Linked DNA regions of Homo sapiens: region 2 is linked to region 1. Evidence: fine-mapped QTL for protein levels in blood plasma. A gene starts in region 1. The other region holds a variant in brackets. All regions are shown on one strand. Distances are between the middles of the regions. Region 1 holds the start of EPHA2 (EPH receptor A2). Region 2 overlaps EPHA2 (EPH receptor A2).

What was found. A credible set is the group of variants that fine-mapping cannot tell apart. PIP is the chance, under the fine-mapping model, that this variant and not a neighbour inherited with it causes the effect. The UK Biobank Pharma Proteomics Project read protein levels with antibody pairs (Olink). The fine-mapping took linkage between variants from a reference panel, not from the people measured, so its PIPs are less certain.
Region 2: its variant is the best candidate, but not a certain one, in a credible set for the plasma level of the EPHA2 protein (UK Biobank, PIP 0.88). The variant lies in the coding sequence of EPHA2. If it changes the protein, the assay may bind it differently, which can mimic a change of level.

Annotation. Positions count from the first base shown.
Region 1 is chr1:16,153,442-16,158,953 of GRCh38, reverse strand. It overlaps EPHA2 (EPH receptor A2), which reads left to right and starts at 2,885. Exons shown (of 17, transcript NM_004431.5): 1 at 2,885-3,106. The coding sequence starts at 3,022. EPHA2-AS1 (EPHA2 antisense RNA 1) reads right to left here and starts at 3,739. Exons shown (of 3, transcript NR_187275.1): 1 at 3,199-3,739; 2 at 1,775-1,983.
Region 2 is chr1:16,133,239-16,138,238 of GRCh38, reverse strand. It overlaps EPHA2 (EPH receptor A2), which reads left to right. Exons shown (of 17, transcript NM_004431.5): 5 at 54-386; 6 at 2,469-2,584; 7 at 3,050-3,203; 8 at 3,672-3,771; 9 at 4,324-4,379; 10 at 4,633-4,758; 11 at 4,871-5,000. Among named protein-coding and RNA genes, the nearest start is that of EPHA2-AS1, 19 kb to the left of the region's middle. The variant G/A (reference allele first, on the strand shown) is at 245.

The DNA of each region.
Region 1 (5,512 bases):
CACTTGCCACCAGAAGGACCAACCAACACTACACACAGAGACTTTCACGCAACACAGAACTCGCAACACTGTCATTCACTCATTAGTTCATTCATTCAGCGGAGGCTTGCTGAATATCTAGTATGTATCAGGCACTGTCTGTTTTCTTTTTTTGTTTTTGGCTCTCGCTCTGTCACCCAGGCTGGAGTGCAGTGCCGCGGTCTCGGCTCACTGCAACCTCCACCTCCTGGGTTCAAGCGACTTTCCTGCCTCCAACTCGAGCAGCTGGGATTACGGGCATGCGCCACCACGCCCGGCTAATTTTTGTATTTTTAGTAGAGACGGGGTTTCACCATGATGACAAGCTTGGTCTCAAACTCCTGACCTCAAGTGATCTATCTGCCTCGGCCTCCCAAAGTGCTGGGATTACAGGCGTGAGCCACCGCGCCTGGCCCAGGCACTGTCTGTTTTCTACAAACATCCCTGTCCTCCTGCAGTGTGTCCTCTAGTGACACATCTGACAGATGGAGCCTGCAAGTGGCATGTAACACACATGTACAAGCAGTGGCTTCCACACAACTCACATGGAGTCTTACACACGCCAGTGTCCCTAGCCCAGAGGCTCCAATACAACATGCAAAACACTTATCCAAACCACGTACTACACACATGCTCACACTCATCCACACACCCCATGTGCCTGTCCACAGAGCCCTGGGCACAACACATGCCCTGCTCTCCACGGATGTGGCTTCCTGTTGCTGAACCGCATGTAACCCAGTAACAGCTGAGATTTCATGCGTGCTTTCTGTAGTCCTGGCCCCTGTGGTTTACATGCATGACTTTATTTGATCTTTACAGTAACTCTCCTAAATAGGCTTTACATCTTTCCAGGAGCAAACTGAGGCTCAGAAAAGTGAAATAACTTGTTCAGAAACTCATGGGCTGACTCCACATCTACTGTGAAGTATGGCACACTCACAAATACATGCATACACAAATCCACACTCACATGCACTCATACACAAATCTCTCACACCCACATGCACACTCATACACACATCTAGACACATCCACACAATCCACAAAAACACACACAGACACACACTCATACCCAAATCCTCTCATGCCCATGCACACACACTTATACACACATATACCAACACTTTTTTCTTTTTTTTTTTGAGACAGAGTCTTGCTGGCCCAGGCTGGAGTGCAGTGAGTGGCGCAATCTCGGCTCACTGCAATCTCTGCCTCTGGGGTTCAAGTGATTCTCCTGCCTTAGCCTCCTTAGTAGATGGGATTACAGGTGAGTGGCACCACGCCCAGCTAATTTTTTTGTATTTTTAGTAGAGACGGGGTTTCACCATGTTGGCCAGGCATGTCTGGAGCTCCTGACCTCAAATGATCTGCCTGCCTCGGCCTCCCAAAGTGCTGGAATTACAGGCCTGAGCCACCCTGCCCAGTCACATACAACACTTATGTCCATACACACACTCACACACAGTCATACATACATCAACACTCTCATGTCTATACACACGAATGCACATTCAACAAAATCTCACACCCTCATACACATGCACTTATTCTCACAGGCACTTGCACACTCACAGGCTCTCAGAGGACCAAGGCTCTCCTCCCATCCTCTTGGTCAAAGGCTTTAATTATCCCCAACGCCTGTAATTAACCCTTCCTCTCTTCCTGCAGGAGAGATGTCTGGACCCGCTTCCCAAGAGTAGGCACCAAGGCGAGAGGCCAAGATGTCCACATCCGGCAGAGAAGACCCACGTACCTGGGTAGCAGGTCCCGGGCATCAAAGCGAGGATGGGGTCAGAGAGGAAGAGGTAGGCAAAGGGAGTCTGGGGCCTCCCAGGAAATCAGGCCTGCCACAGTTGCTCTTCCTGGACTGGTCAAATGGTGATTGGCCAACAGGCAGCCGTGGGTGGCTGGGCAGGCGGGCCAGAGCAAATTTCCCGTTTGTTTCACTCACACTAGCCGCTTCTGTCAGGAAGGGAGATGAGCTCATGTCTGAGGAAGTTTTGTGAAGAGGCCTTATCAAGGGGCAGGTGGTAGGCAGGTGTCCTCCAAACTGTCAAAACCTATCAACCCATGCCAGGGTCGGGGGCCAGGGGTGCCCCTTGCCCCCTTCCCCAAAAAGAAGCAGTGGTTCAAGCAGAGACCACCAGGATTCAAATCCTGCTTCTACTACCCGTGAGCTGTGCACCCTTTGGGCATGTTGTTTCTGCTCTTGGAGCCTCAGTCTCCTCTTCTGTAACATGGGGATGATGACCCCTGCCTCCCAGATGAGAATTATTAATAAATAAGATAGTGCATGTCTGATCCATTCCCAGAGGAAATGAACCTATTCTCAGATCATAGTAGGCTTATAGGCTTCTGAACAGAGATACTCTTTTTGACCATCAGCAGCTTGATATACTCTTCAAGGGTTTTAGGAAGGAGGGCATCCAGGTCTATTTCTGGGCCACTCTCTCAGGCCTGCTGCTTAGGAGGCAACTGCTTATTGGACCCCCAATCCATTTCAGCTCAGACCTTCAGGCCAGCGTTGAGCTCAGTCGCATTGAGCTCAGTCTCAGAGGTGAAGGGCAGAATGGGTATGGCTCAGCGCAAAACCATTAAACGTTTCCACCGAGGATACCAGGCTCAGAGATCCCTGGGGGCTAATCCGTAGGGGCGCTGGCGCTTTGAGACGCTCAAACTTTGGAAGGCCTGCGGGGAGCCCGCGAGTCCAGAGGGCCCCAAGGTCCTCCTCCAAACCCCTCCGGACTTCCCCTCCCTCTCCTCCGGGTGCCAGCCCGGCCCCTTTAAAGACATTCCTGAGGGCGGGCGTTGGTGACGTCACGCAGGGCATGAATGAACAGGAGTCGGTTCTCACCCAACTTCCATTAAGGACTCGGGGCAGGAGGGGCAGAAGTTGCGCGCAGGCCGGCGGGCGGGAGCGGACACCGAGGCCGGCGTGCAGGCGTGCGGGTGTGCGGGAGCCGGGCTCGGGGGGATCGGACCGAGAGCGAGAAGCGCGGCATGGAGCTCCAGGCAGCCCGCGCCTGCTTCGCCCTGCTGTGGGGCTGTGCGCTGGCCGCGGCCGCGGCGGCGCAGGGCAAGGAAGGTGAGTGCGCGCGGCGTCTGGACCCCTGGCCCCCGGGCCCCAGTGCCCCCTAGAGCCCGGCGCTCCTTGACGCGCGCAACTTTGGAACCTACCTGGTGTCGCCCAGTCCCGGCGAACTGGAGTCCGGAGGGCGCACGGGCTGCGATCGAGGCGAGCCCTGGCCCCCACCCGGGGTCATAGGGGCTCCGGAGAATAAGCGGTTTCAGCTTGGTCGCACGGGCCTCGGAGGCTGCGGAGAAGAGGACGCGGCGCAGGCCACGCGGTTGCAGTCCAGGCGGCGACTTCGGGAACGCGTCCCGGCGGGGGGCGTGGGGAGTCCCCTAGAGAAGGGGGTGTTTGGGCAGCTTTCCGCGGGCTCAGCTTCTTAGTGACCTGAATTCACTAACCCGCTTGCCGAGGTTTTGCGGAGAAGGCATACTGTGCAGGCCTCGCATTTTGGGGAGGGGGCTCGGGCGGGCGGGAGCCCCCTGTCGAAGCCCCTGTTCCCTGAGATTTTCTCCACGCCCCCCTTCACCTCCAGTCCCGGGGGAGAGCGTGGAGATAGGTTCGGGCCAATCCCTGCTCACACACTCCTTTCCCTCCTTCCCAAGCCGCACTCCCGGGCTCCCGGGGCAGGTTAGGGGCCGCGAGTGCGGACAGGAAGTCCCAAAGTCAAGCGTTCTGAGCAAGGGTGACTCAGAACGAGGAAATGCGGCAGGTGGGGGTGCGGCCTCCCAAGGTGTGGAGCTGTCAGCCCAGGGCCACCAGGGAGTCAGGACACCCGGGGGTGGGGGACTGAATCACCCACCCCCGCCCCAGTGTTCCCGGAGCCGCGCCGAGTGAGGGGCCGCAGACTTTGCTCATGGCGCAGCGGGTGCGTGGTGGGGGTGTTGTCCCTCCGCTAGGGTCAGGGCGAGGATGGGGGCTCCTGCCCTGGCCGAAGACCTTCCTGTCCACCCAGCCCAGGCCAGCTTCAATTTCCAACAGTGAGGGCAAGGCTTCCCCTCCTGCCTGGGCAGAGCGAGGTTTCCGCAGGCTCCACAAGGGGGAAGCCGGGAGGAAACTTGGGCCGGTGAGAAGTTTCCTTCTTTTTTTTTTTTTTTTTTTTTTTTGAGACGGAGTTTCGCACTTGTTGCCCAGACTGGAGTGCAATGGCGCAATCTCGGCTCACTGCAACCTCTGCCTCCCGGGTTCAAGCTATTCTCCTGTCTCAAGCCTCCCTAGTAGCTGGGATTACAGGTGCCCGCCACCAGGCGCGTCTAATTTTTGCATCTTTTAGTGGAGACGAGGTTTCACCATGTTGGCCAGGCTGATTCTGAACTCCTGACCTCAGGTGATCCACCCGCCGCGGCCTCCCAAAGTGCTGCGATTACAGGCATGAGCCACCACCCCCGGCCTGTTTCCTTCTTTTTCTGCCTCCCAAACTGGGTTTGGAGGTTTTGCTGTTCTGTGTTGGGAGGAAAAGAGGCCGGATCTGGAGCCGTTGGGCAGTGGCAGGTGTTGGGGGTGGCATCCTGTCTCAGTCTCTGGAGTGACAGGGCCCGGGTTGGGGTCTCAACCGGGACTTCTGGTTGCAGGAGCTCATGGCAAGGATTTCTGCCACCCTCAATATCCGCCCCACCAACGTTTGGTCCTCCCCCTTCCTGGGGGACTGTGGTTGGAGAGAAGGGGAGAGACAGCTGGAATCACTATAGGCCTTTCTCCTCGGCTGCCCATGGGGGGGTGGGGGATTAGGCGGGTGCTTTGCTGCTGCAGTCCCCAAGCTGGCCTGGAAGCCTGGAGCTGCCTTGTCCTTGTCCCCTGTGTCCACCTCTCCCCAGCCTGTGTGATTAAACCCCACCCCCACACCCCATGGGATGCAGGGGGAAAGGCTTGTGTATTGCACTGGGGTGGGGGTACATTTTTGCTTCGACTCTGAGTCCCCGTGAAAGAGTCCCTAGAGAAGTGTGCCTAGGTGGGGGTGGGCATGATGGCCTAGCTGGCAGCTGCTGGTTTCAGTTCCTGGGAATCAGGCTGTATGTGGTGGGTCTGCCTGGGGGTGGCTTAGGGGGCAGGCAGGAGGACACAGGTGCCTTTTTCACCTACCCCCAGGCTGCTTCAGACTTCTTTCTTGCCCCCTCACCCCTAGGCTATACTTGGTTGCCCACGTGGCTCCTGTTAGGTCATCAACAGCCACTGAATCTGCCCTCATTTTTACAAATGGGGAAACTGAGGGAGGCCCGAGCCCTTGCCAACCAGGGCCTTCTGGACAGAGGACCAGACCTGAGCATCCCGCTTCTTGGCTGCCAGAGCCAAGGCCCTGCCTGCTTTGTGGTTGGTGTCATGGTAGATTTTCCTGGGAAGCAGGCATAGCTGGGCAGGGGCCTGGGCGGGTGGCAGGGGGTGCTGAGCTGGGGTGCTGCTGATGGGAAGAGGGCTGGAGAGTGC
Region 2 (5,000 bases), 20 kb after region 1:
GGTGACGTGTCCGCCTGGGTCCAGCACAGCACTGACTCCTCCTGTCTGTGCAGGACCCCCCTCCGCCCCACACTACCTCACAGCCGTGGGCATGGGTGCCAAGGTGGAGCTGCGCTGGACGCCCCCTCAGGACAGCGGGGGCCGCGAGGACATTGTCTACAGCGTCACCTGCGAACAGTGCTGGCCCGAGTCTGGGGAATGCGGGCCGTGTGAGGCCAGTGTGCGCTACTCGGAGCCTCCTCAC[G/A]GACTGACCCGCACCAGTGTGACAGTGAGCGACCTGGAGCCCCACATGAACTACACCTTCACCGTGGAGGCCCGCAATGGCGTCTCAGGCCTGGTAACCAGCCGCAGCTTCCGTACTGCCAGTGTCAGCATCAACCAGACAGGTGAGGTCCAGGGGTGGCAGCTGTGCCCTATGGGGCCTGCCCAGGTGGGGCTTAAGGAGGACGGCCATCTGGGGCTCGGGTGTGTTTAGAGAGAGGCAGCAGAGCAAGTGGTTAAAGGCACAGTGTCTAGAGCAAGCTTGTCCAACCCGTGGGCCACATGTGGCCCCAGCCGACATTGAATGCGGCCCAACACAAATTCGTAAATTATCTTAAAACATTATGATATTATTTTTGCAATATTTTTCCCTTTTTTTTGAGACAGAGTCTCGCTCTGTTGCCCAGGCTGGAGTGCAGTGGCTTGATCTCGGCTCACTGCAACCTCTGCCTTCCGGGTTCAAGCAATTCTCCTGCCTCAGCCTCTGGAGTAGCTGGGATTACAGGCACGTGCCACCACACACAGCTAATTTTTTGTATTTTTAGGAGAGACAGGGTTTCACTATGTCGGCCAGGCTGGTCTCGATCTCCTGACCTTGCGATCCGCCCGCCTCGGCCTCCCAAAGTGCTGAGATCACAGGCGTGAGCCACTGCGCCCAGCCTGCAATTTTTTTTTTTTTTAGCTCATCACCTGTTGTTAGTGTTGCTGTATTTTATTTGTGGCCCAAGACCATTCTTCCATTATGGCCCACAGAAGCTGAAAGATTGGACACTCCTGCTCCAGAGCCGCTTCTGAGCTCTGTGACTGTGGGCAGGTTACTTAACCTCTCTGGGCCTCAATGTTCTCCCCTGTAAAGTGGGATAATAATTGAGAATTGAGACTGGGCGCGGTGGCTCATGCCTGTAATCCCAGCACTTTGGGAGGCTGAGGTGGGCAGATCACCTGAGGTCGAGAGTTCCAGACCAGCCTGACCAACATGGAGAAACCCCATCTCTACTAAAAATACAAAAAATTAGCTGGGTGTGGTGGCGCATGCCTGTAATCCCAGCTACTCAGGAGGCTGAGGCAGGAGAATCGCTTGAACCCAGGAGGTGGAGGTTGCGGTGAGCCGAGATCGCACCATTGCACTCCAGCCTGGGCAACAAGAGCGAAACTCCGTCTCAAAAGAAAAAAAAAAAAAGAAAGCATTCAGCAAAAGTTAGTTCTTCTTCTTCTTCTTCTTCTTCTTCTTCTTCTTCTTCTTCTTCTTCTTCTTCTTCTTCTTTTCTTCTTCTTCTTCTTCTTCCTCTTCTTCTTTCTTCTTCTTTTCTTCTTTTCTTCTTCTTTCTTCTTCTGTCTTCTTCTTCTTCTTTTTTTTTGAGACGGAGTTTTGCTCTTGTTGCCCAGGCTGGAGTGCAATGGCACAATCTTGGCTCACCGCAACCTCTGCATCCCGGATTCAAGTGATTCTCCTGCCTCAGCCTCCTGAGTAGCTGGGATTACAGGCATGCGCCACCATGCCCAGCTAATTTTGTATTTTTAGTAGAGACGGGGTTTCTCCATGTTGGTCAGGCTGGTCTCGAACTCCCAACCTCAGGCAATCCTCCCGCCTCGGCCTCCCAAAGTGCTGGGATTACAGGGGTGAACCACCACACCTGGCCTTTTATTATTATTATTATTATTATTATTATTATTTATGCACTCGTAAATATGGGGCACCTCTGATGTGCCAGCCCCTGTGATGGGGCCAGGGTGGAGGCCTGGGGCTCTGGCCCTGTGCTCTGGAGCTGAAAGTTTAGGATCCTAGGTTGGGATCTAAAGAGCCTGGGAGCTGGGCGTGGTGACCACGCCCATAATCCCAGCATTTTGGGAGGTTGAGGCAGGAGGATTGCTTGAGCTCAGGCATTTGAGACCAGCATGGGCAACATAGGGAGACCCCATCTCTACAAAAAATACAAAAATTAGCCAGGTACAGTAGCATGTGTCTGTAGCCCCAGCTATTCAGGAAGCTGAGGCAGGAGGATCACTTGAGCACAGGAGTTCAAAGCTGTAGTGGGCCGAGATCATGCCACTGCACTCGAGCCTGGGTGAGAGAGCGAGATCCTGTCTCAAAAAAATGAAAGAATCTGGGCTGTGGAGGATGTGGCTCCACGTCCACTTGTCCCCCCAAACCCTGCCTGCTCGTAGGCAGCTTCTTACCCACTTCCCCCACTGCCTGTCCTGCCCAGAGCCCCCCAAGGTGAGGCTGGAGGGCCGCAGCACCACCTCGCTTAGCGTCTCCTGGAGCATCCCCCCGCCGCAGCAGAGCCGAGTGTGGAAGTACGAGGTCACTTACCGCAAGAAGGTAACTCCCAGAGGGGCGGGGCTGGCTCTAGCTGGGCCGACAGCAGGGGACAGGCTGGTCACATAGATGATCACCAAACCACCCAGCCATCTGAAGAAGCACCCTTCTGCAGATGGGGAAACTGAGGCCTGGGGTCTGCCAGGGGGTTACATCTCCCAAGGCAGCACAGCAGAGATTTGTACGAGAGAAGACATGGCGTCCTTGGAAGAGGCAGTCAGGGTGAGGACAGGGGCAGAATTTTGGGACCCCACACACTCAGTTTGAGTCCTGGCTCATGCATTTAGTGGTTCTGACCTTGAGTGAGTCACTTAATTCCGAGCCTCAGTTTCCTCCTCTGTAAGAAGAGCCTCAAGTTTGCTAACAAAGGCAAGCCACCTTGCTAGCTTGGGGTGGTCTCCAGCGGGCTGAGCCGAGGCCCCTGCCCTGCCCTCACTGCCTGCTCCTCCGCCGGCCACCCACCCACAGGGAGACTCCAACAGCTACAATGTGCGCCGCACCGAGGGTTTCTCCGTGACCCTGGACGACCTGGCCCCAGACACCACCTACCTGGTCCAGGTGCAGGCACTGACGCAGGAGGGCCAGGGGGCCGGCAGCAAGGTGCACGAATTCCAGACGCTGTGTGAGTTGGGGGACCCTGGGCATGGACCAGGCCAGGGCCCAGAACCAAGCAATTGAGACATCTTGGGAAAGGAAGTGAATCAAATAACTTAGAAATGCCCCTTTCTCGGTCACCGGCGGCCTGGGACAGCCCTTCGGGGACTGCCCCCAAGCCTGGGGAGGGGGAAGCATGGAAGGCTGAGGGGTGGAGGAGCCGGGATGTGGATTCACGACAGTGGTGTGAGGAAGTTCAAATCCGCATCTCAGAAAAAGCCAGAGCTTTGAGCCCCACATACCTGCAATACCTCCCGTGAGACCTTCGGGAAGGCCTCCGCTTGACCGTCTATGAAATGGGACTAAGTACCCTCTGGAGCCTTCCCAAGTGCAAGCACCCAGCACACAGTAGGGGCCCAGGTGTCTTGGGTGCAGCGCGGGTGTTGCTGTAATTTGTGGGGGAACTCCCTTGTCATCAGCTGATTTCTTCCACCAGCCCCGGAGGGATCTGGCAACTTGGCGGTGATTGGCGGCGTGGCTGTCGGTGTGGTCCTGCTTCTGGTGCTGGCAGGAGTTGGCTTCTTTATCCACCGCAGGTTCGTCAGAGCCCATACCCTGGCTCCACATGGGCTTGGGTGGGAAAATGGGGCAGGAACCTCCATTTCCTCATCTGAACGATGGGGCCCACAGGATGCTAGTCGAGTCTAATCCCTGCCTCCGGATGGTGCGAGGATATACGAGTTAGAGTGTGTAGCGAAGTGCCTGGCACGCGGCGGGGCCGGGACACGGGGGTCATTACCTCTGCTCTTGTTGTTATTAATGATGTGTCCACACTTCCTCTGGACACGCAGGCAGGAATCCCCGAGTAGCTCTAATGGGAATGCCTTCGTCACGACTGCTTAAGGGGCCATTCTGGGGCCTAGATCCTGGAGAGGGAGTCCTGGCTCGCTCACTTCCTCCCTGTTCCTCCACCCGCCTTCTCCGCACCCTCGGCCCTGAGAGTGGAGCTTGGGCAGCAAAAGCGGGGACTGGGCCGCATTCTGAGCACCCCAGGTCCTCCTAGGACCAAAGTAGGGCCAGGAGGCTTCCCTGGCCGGAGCAGACCTCACTGACCTCCCTGCATTTGGTTCCCCGTGGGGCTCTTTCAGGAGGAAGAACCAGCGTGCCCGCCAGTCCCCGGAGGACGTTTACTTCTCCAAGTCAGGTGAGACGCAGCCCCCGCTCCAGGCCCAGCCCTGCCCGCACCGTCCCCAGCTCTGTGGGGGAGGTGGGGGCAGCCAGGGTGTTCCCAGGGCACTGGGGTGGGGCCACAGGCTTCCGTGGGCAGCTCTGAGGGGTCCGTCCCCCACAGCCTGGTCCAAGTCTCTGAAGATCACGTGACCTTCTCCTCTGACTCCAGAGCACCCCCCATGGGGCCCCTCCTGAGCTGCCTGTGACCCCACCCCTTCTCCTTCCAGAACAACTGAAGCCCCTGAAGACATACGTGGACCCCCACACATATGAGGACCCCAACCAGGCTGTGTTGAAGTTCACTACCGAGATCCATCCATCCTGTGTCACTCGGCAGAAGGTGATCGGAGCAGGTGAGGTTGGCCCCCTGCCAAGGGGCCCTGAGGAGGCAGCGGTGGTGACACAGTGTGGGAGCCCTCATGCCGGGGCTGACCAGGGCACTCCCCTGACCCTGTCTGCCCACAGGAGAGTTTGGGGAGGTGTACAAGGGCATGCTGAAGACATCCTCGGGGAAGAAGGAGGTGCCGGTGGCCATCAAGACGCTGAAAGCCGGCTACACAGAGAAGCAGCGAGTGGACTTCCTCGGCGAGGCCGG